Linked DNA regions of Homo sapiens: region 1 is linked to region 2. Evidence: fine-mapped expression QTL. A gene starts in region 2. The other region holds a variant in brackets. All regions are shown on one strand. Distances are from middle to middle. Region 1 overlaps LOC124906243 (a long non-coding RNA gene). Region 2 holds the start of WNT5A (Wnt family member 5A).

Region 1 (5,369 bases), 320 kb before region 2:
GATTACTTCTCATATTTAGGATGTGGGGGTATGTACAGGGCATTGTCTACTTTATAAATGTCTCTTCTTCCAAAATGGAACTGGACAAAGTCAAGACAGAAAACAGTTTCAGATATCCATTCAAAGCAAGGATAGGTACTTAGCACTGAAGCAAAATCTTTGCTGAGATATCTATAGGAATTGGTAAATGTAAATCATTCAGGGGGTCTTTTTAAAACGTGGCCTGAGTTTATCCCCTTTTGGGTCAAAGACAGATGTCAGAAAGCTTCTTCTTTACCCAGCTTTGCAACCTCCCATCTGCCTTCAATTAGGCAAGCGGTCAGCCTCTCCACATTTAGGGTACACCAAGGCAAGGCCCTGAGTTACACTCTTGTCGCAAACCCACTAGGAATGACTTCACAGCTGGACACGGTTTGTCCCACAGAAATTCCAGACACAACATTGCCCAAAGCATTTAGGCCTTGCAGACCACGACATTATATTTTAACATGTCACTCATAATCCTGATTCTTCCTCTCTCCCTATCTGGAAACTCACGTTTGCCTCTCAGATTGCATCCTCTATGCTTTGAAAACACTGAGTGATAACCACACTGACTCATCTGTTCTGAGAGGAGGCTTGCTCTGGCCAGGCCAATTTGAACTCTGAGCCACAGGCCCTGACTTCTGAACCTTCTCTAATGAGTCTGTTTTGTGCCTTACATATTTTTACCCAAAGATAAGATCTGTTCTCATTTTCTCTAGATCTATTTATGCATCCCTAATAAGCAAGTTGTTATAAAAAAGCAAGTTTAGATGTAGTCTAAACACTTGAATGTGTAGCAGCTGCAAGATTACCTGTTTGAAGTCTGTTGATGAGACTTCTCCCAGGGAGGACATAGCAAAGGGAAAGGCATTCAAATCATGAGAAGAACATAGAGGTGGGGTTTTTGGTTTTAGTTTTGGTTTTATTCCAAGCCAAAAGACTAAGCTCAGAGAGCATAATATCTCCATTCCTCAAGGTCATGGCCAGGCCCAGATGTTTTTTGCTTTGTCCAACATTTGTAGGCTCCTCATTTCTGGCAGTAGGTGCATACAGTATAGACTTGACTTCCTTTGAATTTCCTGCCATTAATAAGGCCCAGGGTCAATATAAAATATGTATTGAATATCTAGTCACATTTTTTCAGGCAGCATTAAAATTCTTCTCTATGGAACATAATGTTTGATGTACTTGGAAAAGGCTACTTTGTTTTATAATATGTACCTCTGAGGAAGTCAAATATTTTTATTCCTTGATTCCTTCCCTCCCTCCCTTCCTTCCTTTCTTCCTTCCTTCCTTCCTTCCTTCCTTCTTTCCTTCTACTCTTCTATCCTTTCATCTATTCATTCATTTCTCCATTAACACATTTTTTCACATTTATGTCAAGTATCTACTGTGGGCCAAGCAGTGAGCTAAGTATTAGAGATAAAAATAAATCGAACATCCAACTTGATTTTTAATCTTGTAGGGGAGAGAAAGTTAAACTGGGAAAATGATGTAACCAAAGTATAAGTAAAGTTCACTGGGAGAGTCAATAAAGTTCACTGGGAGACCCATGGGGGAAGAATTTGCTTCTAGAATAATTAGAGCTGGGCTTGAAACTGGCTCTCTCCCTAACTAGCTGTGTAACCTTGGGCTTTACTTAACTCCTGTGAGCCTTGGTTTCCTCATCTTAAAATGGGGATTATAGTAGAATCTATTTCATTGGATTGTAGTGAGGATTCAGTGAATGAATGAGGTAATCATAAAAAGGGTTCAGTGCAGTACTTGACTTCTCTATGATTAGAATTAGTGATCCTGTCTAGGAAAACCTTACAGAAGAGGTAACATTGGTCTTAATCCTGAAGAATGAGTAGGGACTTGAAAAGGGGGAAGAACATTGCAAGTAGAGGGAAAACCATGTCTAGGCCTGGAGTCATGCATATGTGTGACGTGTTAGGCAGCAGATGGTCAGTGTGGTCAGACAGAGGGGATGTGTGGGATGGGAGTTGAGACTGGACAAGTAGGACAGCTGGAAAAGGACTATGTATTCGATGGTGAACTACATGCTTCAGACAGGAAACAATGGAACGTAGCATGGTAGTTCTCACTCCAGAAACCAGAGACTGAATCCTGGAAGGAGAGAGACGGATAAGAAGCAGTTTCTTAGCTGTCCATCGGCCTCCTAAGGTTCGCATAGAGCTTTCAGCTCTGTTGTCCATCCAGTAACCCTAAGATATTTTCCAGTTTAGGCTAAGGTATTTGGCAAAAGATTCGGGAGACCTCCTGCCTTCCTCTTCTTCTGCCACTGGCACACCCTCATGGTCCACTCTGATGGTGAAGGGCTGGGAAGTGGGAATTCTTGGGTCTCCTCATTCATCATCATGGCTGAGTCTAATGGGATAATGGTTGAACAAGAGGGTCTTCAAGGTTACCCCCAGTTCTGAGTCATGATTCCAAGTTACAGGGATTCACTTAACCTCATAAGATAAGTAATGGGCCCAAGGTCATACAGCCAGGGAGTATGACCAGCAGAACCAGGATTTGAGCCTAAGCTGCCTAGCTCTAGACTCTGTACTCTTAGTTTTTGCCTTACACTGTCTCTATTCTGTGCTCAACCATTTTGCCCAGGCCAATGATCACATTTCCCTACTTTCTGTTGTTCTCAAGTTTAGACTTAGAATTTAACTTGGGAGCAAGTGGGTTTTGTGGTCTGTTTAATTAAAATTCTAGAACACAGAGTTCTCAGCAGAGGTCTTGCTCTGGAAAGCATCCTGGGGGCTGGACCTTA[A/T]GCAAGGCATGGGAACACTTGCAACAAATTTTTCCCTGTACTGGCTGGCCTTTAGGAATGGGGCTCCTGGAGAGGAACTTGATTGGCCTCACTGCTCCTCTTGCCACATGTGGGGTGGCCAGATTCCATTATTTTGCAGCACAGGTGAGGATGAGGAAGTGTGCATGTGTGTGTATGTCTTGTGTTGTGTTTGGAGGATTGTCCATAATGGAAGTGCATAAACATCAATCAAGGCTTCTTTTTCTTTTTGGGTGTTCAAAGTGTGGAGGTGATATATCCTGTTCTAAATTGTGAATGGTATTTTCAAATACTTTAAAACAACGCTTATTATCAAAGGGCAGAAGAGATGTGCTTAAAGGTAATAACACCTTATTGGCTTAGAGGCACCTTGCTGGCTTTAAAATGCTTTCTTGGCCTGGAGTGTAAATGTTATTGGCTTTGAACTCACTCCCAAATTATACAAAGGTTTTGTCCCTCTCTTGACTGCCAAATGTTTGAGCCCCACTTCAGCAGTGTCTTGCTGAGAGGCCACACTGCCATAGGCCCTCAGACAGCTGTAAAATCTGACAGCCTGAGTGAGGGAATCCAAATCTGTTTCTTATTGAGTAGCCAAGATGGCTGGGTAACACCACAGCCAGCTGTAGATCACTTTTATGGACAGCAAGGGATGTGTCATCTCAGTAGCATCTGCACAAAGTATCTTCTTGGATGATTCCAGGCTGAGGAAGGGCCAGGTGTGGCTGTACATTTTTGTAAAACCCCTCACATGTGAACAAAGTCCACTGCTCAGCACATCCTGCGCTTTTCCAGCATCTCTTAGATAGTGAATTTGGTACCTCTTGATCATTGAAATTCAGGAATCAACTTAAAAGGTAACTTTCTGGTGCTAAAGCACATCTCTCTCCTTCTAATGCCGAATTCACTTCATTATCCAAGCCCTTTGGTCTCTGACTTACAGTAAATAATTATCCACAGCTGTTGCAAGTTGGTTTATCCTCCAATAAAGGTCAGGATGACTGACTAGACATCAGAGGAAAAACTTCTAAAATTTGGTGTTTAGACTAACTTACATCTATGTTTATCTCTTTTGTGTTTGTTGTAACTAAATAGGCGAGTGCGGTTTGTGGTTAAAGCATGACCAGGCAACCTGGATGTCATGGTTTTCTCTCTAGTTCTTTAATTTTGATGCATGTGGAATTCTCTCCTCCTTTGATGCCTCAATTTCCCCAGCTGTCACACATAGATCAGCATTCAAGGGTTCCTCTCATAGACTTCCTCGGGGGTGATGGGGAGAGTAATGGGGATCTGCTTGTCCATACTCTAAAAAACCAAATTCTAGAAACCAATTCTCTTTATAAGACCCAGGGAAGGCCAATCCACCTCCATTGCTTGACAGACTTCACCTAAAGCTGAAATAGTCACAAACTAAAGTTTGCTGGACCATGCAATGAAGCTGCAAGTACTCCCCAGGGGAGTTTACCTTCAACACCAGGAGGCCAAAGAAACAAAAAGGCCCCATGTCCCAGCAGGAAATGGGACACACTGGTGCATTTCCATTCACCAGGAAAACTAGAAGGAGAGGGAAACTTCTGCCACGCACATTTCCAGATGGGATTTGTGGGCTTGGCTCATGGTGGGGCCCACACAAGCTCTCCAGCTGTGTCCTGGGATCTCTAGGAAGAGGCCTAACAGCAGGATGAGGCAGGAGACGTACTTCCAGGGATAAAAATTTATTAGGATAAAACCTAATGCAAACACAATTTTCTCTGGAAACACCAACAAGAGGAGCAAAAGAATAAGCAAAGATGATTCCAAAGAAAATGAAAGCGATTGCGATTAATGGTTGGGGAGGAAGGGAGGAAACTACAGGCCAAGAACAAAGAACAAGAAACCTCTGAAGCTTGCTACAAAGGGAGCTCTTGACCCCCTAGTTGAAGTCATTATTATTTCATGCCTACTAGGGCTGCCAAACGGGCCTCTCTGAACTTGAGCTCTGCTTTTTTGAATAATACACTCCCATCATCATGTTGATTAGAGTACAGGCTAGGAGCATGGTATAAGGTAGAACCTTTTGGGATCAGACAGACCTGGAGCTGTATGAGTTATTTAACCTCACTGTGCCACAATTTCCTTGTCTGTACAATGGGGATATGATACTACCTGCCTTAAATGCAATCATGCTTGTGAGGTACCTAACACACTTATCCCTCAATAAACGATATTATTACTTCTCTTAGCACTATACTTCTTTCACACCACTTCCCTGCTTAAAACCCTTTCATGACTCCTCATAGCCCATGGCATGCATAAAGGGTGAGCAATTTTTTTACAGTCAATGGCTCCACCTTGCTTTCTGGACCAGAGCTGTCCAATAGAACTCTCCACAACAATGGAAATGTTTTCTATCTGTGCTTTCCACTCTGGCAGCTATCAAGTCCAGGTAGCTATAAAAAGCAGATAATATAATTGACGAACAGATATTTCAATTGTATTGAATTTTAATTCATTGAAATTTAAATAGCCACGTGTGGTAAGGGGCTATTATATTGGACAGCACAAGTCTTAGACTTTTATATCT
Region 2 (5,321 bases):
TACTCCCTAAGCCTCACGCCTGGGCGCAAGGGTTGTGTCCACAGCAATATGTGTGTTGGCGCGCGCGGAGCGGGGTAGGGGAGGAGGGAATTGCCAGATAGAGAAGGCGGAGGTTACACCTTGAGCCAGAATCAGTATGACAAAAGAGAGCCGCCCAGGCCTCAACACTGACAGCAGGTTCCAGGTTCGGGTATAGAGAGGCCCCAGGGGAAGAACGGTCTGGCCTGGTTCTCCTCTGTTTCCTGCCCCCTCGTCCATCCCTTAGACTGGGCTTTCCAGGCCCCAGGATACACACACACACACACACACACACACACACACACACACACACACACACCACTCACACCTTCTCACATAGGATGTCTAGCCCTCTCGGCAGAGGATCAACTTTGTCCAGAGGTGGAGCAGAGTCCTTGGACAGAGGAAGAAAATGAAATGATAGTCCAACCCCCACTCTTTAAAGGTAGTTTCTCTCCCACTTTTTAATAGACGATTAAAGTGAGGCGAAAAGCGGGAAAGCAACACTTGTTCTCGATCATAGAGAGTTGGGAGGCAGCTGAGGCCAGACCCGAGGCCTCCTAGGGCGACACTCTCCTTCCCAAGCCCAGAAGAAGAGGTACCAACCCTGTGTCCAGCTGGCCGAGTCCCATTTGCTGGGCTGGACCCGTGGCCCCTTCCGTATTGCAGCGGCCGGCGGCGCAGCGAAACTGGTCCTCTGGGGGCCTCCGAGGGCCCCTGCTGGGAGAGTGGGGTCTGGTGGTCGGGAGGGATGAAGGGAGCAGGGGTGGGAGGGAGAGGGGAGCAGCTGCCCGCCCGCCCGCCCCAAGGAACCGAGGCTCGCAGGAGTCCTACCTCAAGGCGGCCAACAGGGGGCAGCCGGCACCGCACCGCGGGGAAGAAAAGGCCGCGGGGATGGCTCCGAGTTCTGCGCGCATAGTGCTAACCCCTTGAGCACCGGAGCGCACGGGGGAGGGGAGGAGAAGACAGGGGACTCTTGGGCCGGGCCTCCTGGGGAGGGTCTTCCGTTGAGAGGGTCGGGGGGTGGAGGAGACGAAGGCTACTACGTCCTGGACCCGAGAACAACTCCCCTACACACACAAACACACACGCACACACACGCAGCCAAGGATCCACACACTCGGACACACACACATTTGTCGGCCCGCGGTTCGCTGCGCACTCTCCGCATTGCCCCCTCGAAACTCCCCTGGCAGAGTCTGTCTAGAAACTAAATCTGGCTGGTTCGGCAGTGAATGTGCGAAGGTGGCTGGGGGGAGGGCAGGGGCTGAGGAGGTGCGACCTCACCGCAAGGCCCAAGTTACTTCCAAACAGCGAATTACCCATTTAAAGAGAGAAGAGAGAAAAGAGAGGCGAGAGAGGAGAAGGGGCCTCGATACCAGACAGGGATTAGAAAGTCAAACAGGGCCGTGGGGTCTCCAGACTTGAAGTTTTTTGTTGTTGTTTTTTTTAACTTTTTGGGGGGAAGAGGGGTTATTTGCTTCCAGGAAACATCTTAATTTCAATTCTAACCTTATTTTCTAAGAAACTTAAAATGGGAAAGACCAGAAAAATGGAAATAGGAATCGAAGCTTGGAGGACAGATAAGAAAAATTGTTTAGAAAATAAAAACTTATGTTGCAGGAAGAAACGTTAACTTTTCGTAAAAGTGAACTCTCAGTGACCCTCGGAGTGTGTGATTCGGCTTTAACATACAACTGACAATTAAAACAAACAAGAGTTCGCAAACTGGCCCCCGCCTGCTCTCCCAAAGCGGAGGCCCAAGTGTTTTCTAAAGGACAAGGCGGACTCCGCTCAGGGGGCCGGGGAGCGCTGTCCCGGAGTACGGGATTACAGCCACTACCACCACAACTCCCCGCCCCCACCACTGCTGCAAAGTGCCTGAGCTCACCCAGTGGCGGCTAATAATGCTAATAACGCGACCCCGCTCCCCGCGCCGGGGTGCGCGCTGGCCCCCCGCCAGGCACTCTTAAAGGCAAAGGGGCCTGAAGCGCTCGAGTTACTCGGCCAAGGCAAGCCTACAATCTGGCCTCCGTCGGTGCGGGGGGGTGTCGGGGAAGGTGTACGCCGCTCTGGAGTAGTTGGCCCCTAGTTCCTCTGCGGGTTCTCTCAACCAAGGAGTCCCTTTCCCCATCCCGAGCCCCGGCCACACACCGTCCCGGTGCCCGCGCAGTGGGCGCTTGGTAAATATTTGTTGAATTGAATCATTATCCTGTTACTGAAATATACATAGTAAATTACACTCGATGTTCTCAGAGCAAAAGGAAAGTCGTCAGTGAACCGCACTCAGTTTGTCTACTATCGCTCTTCCCCACTTTTTCTCAAAAATCAAAATTGTTTGCAGAACGGGTGGTGCGACCAGAAGTGATCTCCTGGGACACTGAGGCAGTGCGCCCGGCGTGGAGGGCGAAGGGGTAGGGGTTCCTGCCAGCGACGCTGGAGTTCCAGCTTCTTCAGGCGGTTGGGGAAATGGAGGGATAGGAAGAGGCGAAGGGAACTCAGTTAACTTCCAACAGGGGGTGGGGGGAAGTAAAGAAAAAAAGTGGCAGCGCACTGAACACCTACCTTCATGGCGAGGGGGAGGGGGCGCGGGGAGGAAGTCGCCACCCGAGCGAGCGCAGCCGAGGAATCCGAGCGGAGCGACCGGGTTAAGCCTGGGGGGACGGTCAGGAGCAGGGCTGCGGAGTCCTCCGGCGCGCGTCCGGCGGGCGCAGTGAACCGGAGCTGAAGCGGGCACTGGCGCCCGGGCCTGGACTCCCGAGTTGGGGCAGAGCTGGGATGCGCCCAGGAATGGAGGGGGCGCGGACGCGCGCGAGCCGGCAGCAAGGGCAGGGCCTGGTCGGGGCGCAACTAGGGAGCCGCCGGTCCGGCGAGGGCGCGCAGGCAACTGTTCCACGGAGAGGCGCTCCGTTTCCAACGTCCATCAGCGACGGCGGTAATTAGGGCTTTCCAACCCCAAATGTGGGCGTGATTGTGCAAAAGACCTTACGACAAATAATAATAAAAAGAAATTCTTCACAAGAGGGTGAAAAAAATGTACCACTACTCAACTGTGGCCCGGGGCGGGGGAAGGGGGGCGATCTGTGCGCCCAGGTGCCCCCAGTTCATTCACACCACAGATTCTGCAAACTCTTGGCGGCTCACGCCTCCTGATCTCCAGCTCCTCCTCTCTGGGTCTGTAGCCGAAACGTCTGCTTCCAGACGCTGATCCTGCAGCCGCGAGTTAGTGTGGACGTCTCTGTACACACACAGACACACACCCCAACACACACACCCCCGCTGCAGCTTTGGGGCCACAGAACAATCAGGCGCGCATGGCTTTTTCTCCGGGAGATGCCGCTGAAAACGCACAAGTCGCCATCTGAGCTGCAAGAGTCAGCCCCAAATTGTGTCCTTTCATTTTAGGGTTCGGCAAAAACGGGGAGCAAAATAGGTGAAAGTCGCCCCGGAACTTATTGCTGTGCGGTGAGCTGGAGGGGTGCGACTAACCCAGGGGAGACGCGGGCTCCCCCCCCCCACCACGTATCCCGTTCTTTCTCTCTTCGGGTTGATCTCTCTTTTCCCCGTTTTTCCAGGGCGAAGGGCGAAGAGCAGCGAGTGCACCGCGGGCGCGAGGCTGGGGAAGGGCGAGAGCTCGGAGCTCCGCGGCGGCGACTCAGCTCCGGCGGTCCATGGCCGGCGAAGCTGCCCACCTCCTCGTTTGGCGCCCGGGTCCGAGGGGCGGGAGAGCGGGCCGGCGGGAGGCGGGCGGTCCCGGGCACAACGGCGGCGGCGGAAGGGCTCGCTGGGCAGCTGCCGCACGGACCCCGGCTCTGGGCGGCGGAGGCGGCTCCGTGGAGCTCGCAGCAGATTTCCACGCGATCCTGTGCCCCGCAAACAGACTGACCGACCGCGGGGACGCGTCCCCCCCTCCCACCCCCCAGCCCTTCTGGCCAACTGCCTTACTCTCTCCCTCCCTCTCTCCAGACTCCTCTTTCCCCTGGTGTTCTCAGAAGGAAGAAAAAAAAAAAAAGAAAGAAAGAAAGAAAGAAAAAAGTTCTTTAAAGTTTCAGAACTAGGGGCGGCTGGAAAGAGAGAGGGAAGGGGGGGGAAGAAAGAAAAAACTCAACTTTGCTATGCGCATGCGTGGTGAGGCCGGCCTATGACAAACTCTGCAGGATTTTAAAGCCGTACTACGGGCTGGGGTGCCGGGAGGCGGGGTACACTCTCCTTGTCTCCCCTTCTCTAAGTTCCCCATCCCCCGCGGCATCTGCTGAAAGAGAGAGGTCCACTCCGCAGCCGCTGCCTGCCTGCCGCCTGGTTGTCTGCGCTCCTTCCAGAGCCACCGACCGGCGGGAGGCTGAACCCCAACTTCCCCGCCTGGACCCCTTGGCTCGCCCGCGTATCCCAGACCGCTCCCACTGGGGCTCCACGGAGACTGCTGCCTTGACATGGAACCTCATGGGGGACCTCCTCATTCTTACCTCTGGGGGAGGATACTTAAGCACTGGGGCTGATGGATAGGGTTAGGCGCTCACCTCCTGCAAAGTCCCCAGAGTAGTAGGGACTTGGGTAGTGGGATGCATGATTGCTCATCTGGCTCCGGCCCAGAGCATGAGGCGCGATGCGTGGTCCTGCCACGGAGATCTTGGCGGGTGCCCTCAGGTGAGGAGATTGCGAAGTTTGGCAAAACCGGGTTCCGGGCACCGGAATTTCTAGACGCTTCCAGATGCCCGTGGTTTTGGGGACTCCGGAGGGGCAGGGTTGGTGGATTTGTGTCCGCTACCTCCAGCACGCCGAGGGCCCCACCCCACAAACAGTGCCTCACACTGGAGCGTAATAGTTATTTTCCGCCGTCTGCATTCTCCAGCTGTCAAAGGTGAAGACACACACACGCGCGCACACACACACACACACACACACACACACACTATTCAATTTTCTCCGTCCATTGGCATGCACTTGACCTTAAGGCGAAAAATCCGTGGCCTAGGTGTTTTGGTGTGGTGGCTGTTTTGTTTTGTTCCTCCAGTCCTCCCCCACCTCCACCCCCACACCCCAGAGGGCGCAGGCCCAGGCTCCAGCGATGCCGTTCCACCCTCCACAGCCCCTTCCCATTCCTTAATTTTCCTAGCCGACTGGACCCTTCCCCAGCCCTGGCCTCCTTCCTGGCGCGCAAAGATGGCAGTGTGAACTTCCCACCAAGTGCCAGAGACAGATGCTCCTGCTTAGCACCTCCCGCCTCCCACCAACTTGCTTTCTTTCCCCCAGGGCGTGTGCGGCCTTAAGGAGAGGGAATCCAAGGTTCTCAAAGCTCCCCTTGG

The links. PIP is the estimated chance that this variant, and not a neighbour inherited with it, causes the effect.
Region 1: its variant is fine-mapped to the expression of WNT5A in fibroblasts (GTEx, PIP above 0.99).

The regions. Positions count from the first base shown.
Region 1 is chr3:55,161,641-55,167,009 of GRCh38, forward strand. All of the region lies in intron 2 of LOC124906243 (a long non-coding RNA gene), which reads right to left. Among named protein-coding and RNA genes, the nearest start is that of LINC02017, 14 kb to the right of the region's middle. The variant A/T (reference allele first, on the strand shown) is at 2,792.
Region 2 is chr3:55,484,397-55,489,717 of GRCh38, forward strand. WNT5A (Wnt family member 5A) reads right to left here and starts at 2,910. Exons shown (of 5, transcript NM_003392.7): 1 at 2,584-2,910. The coding sequence starts at 2,589. It overlaps WNT5A-AS1 (WNT5A antisense RNA 1), which reads left to right and starts at 3,222. Exons shown (of 2, transcript NR_046656.1): 1 at 3,222-3,483; 2 at 3,594-3,912. RefSeq lists enhancers at 4,534-5,044, 5,045-5,321.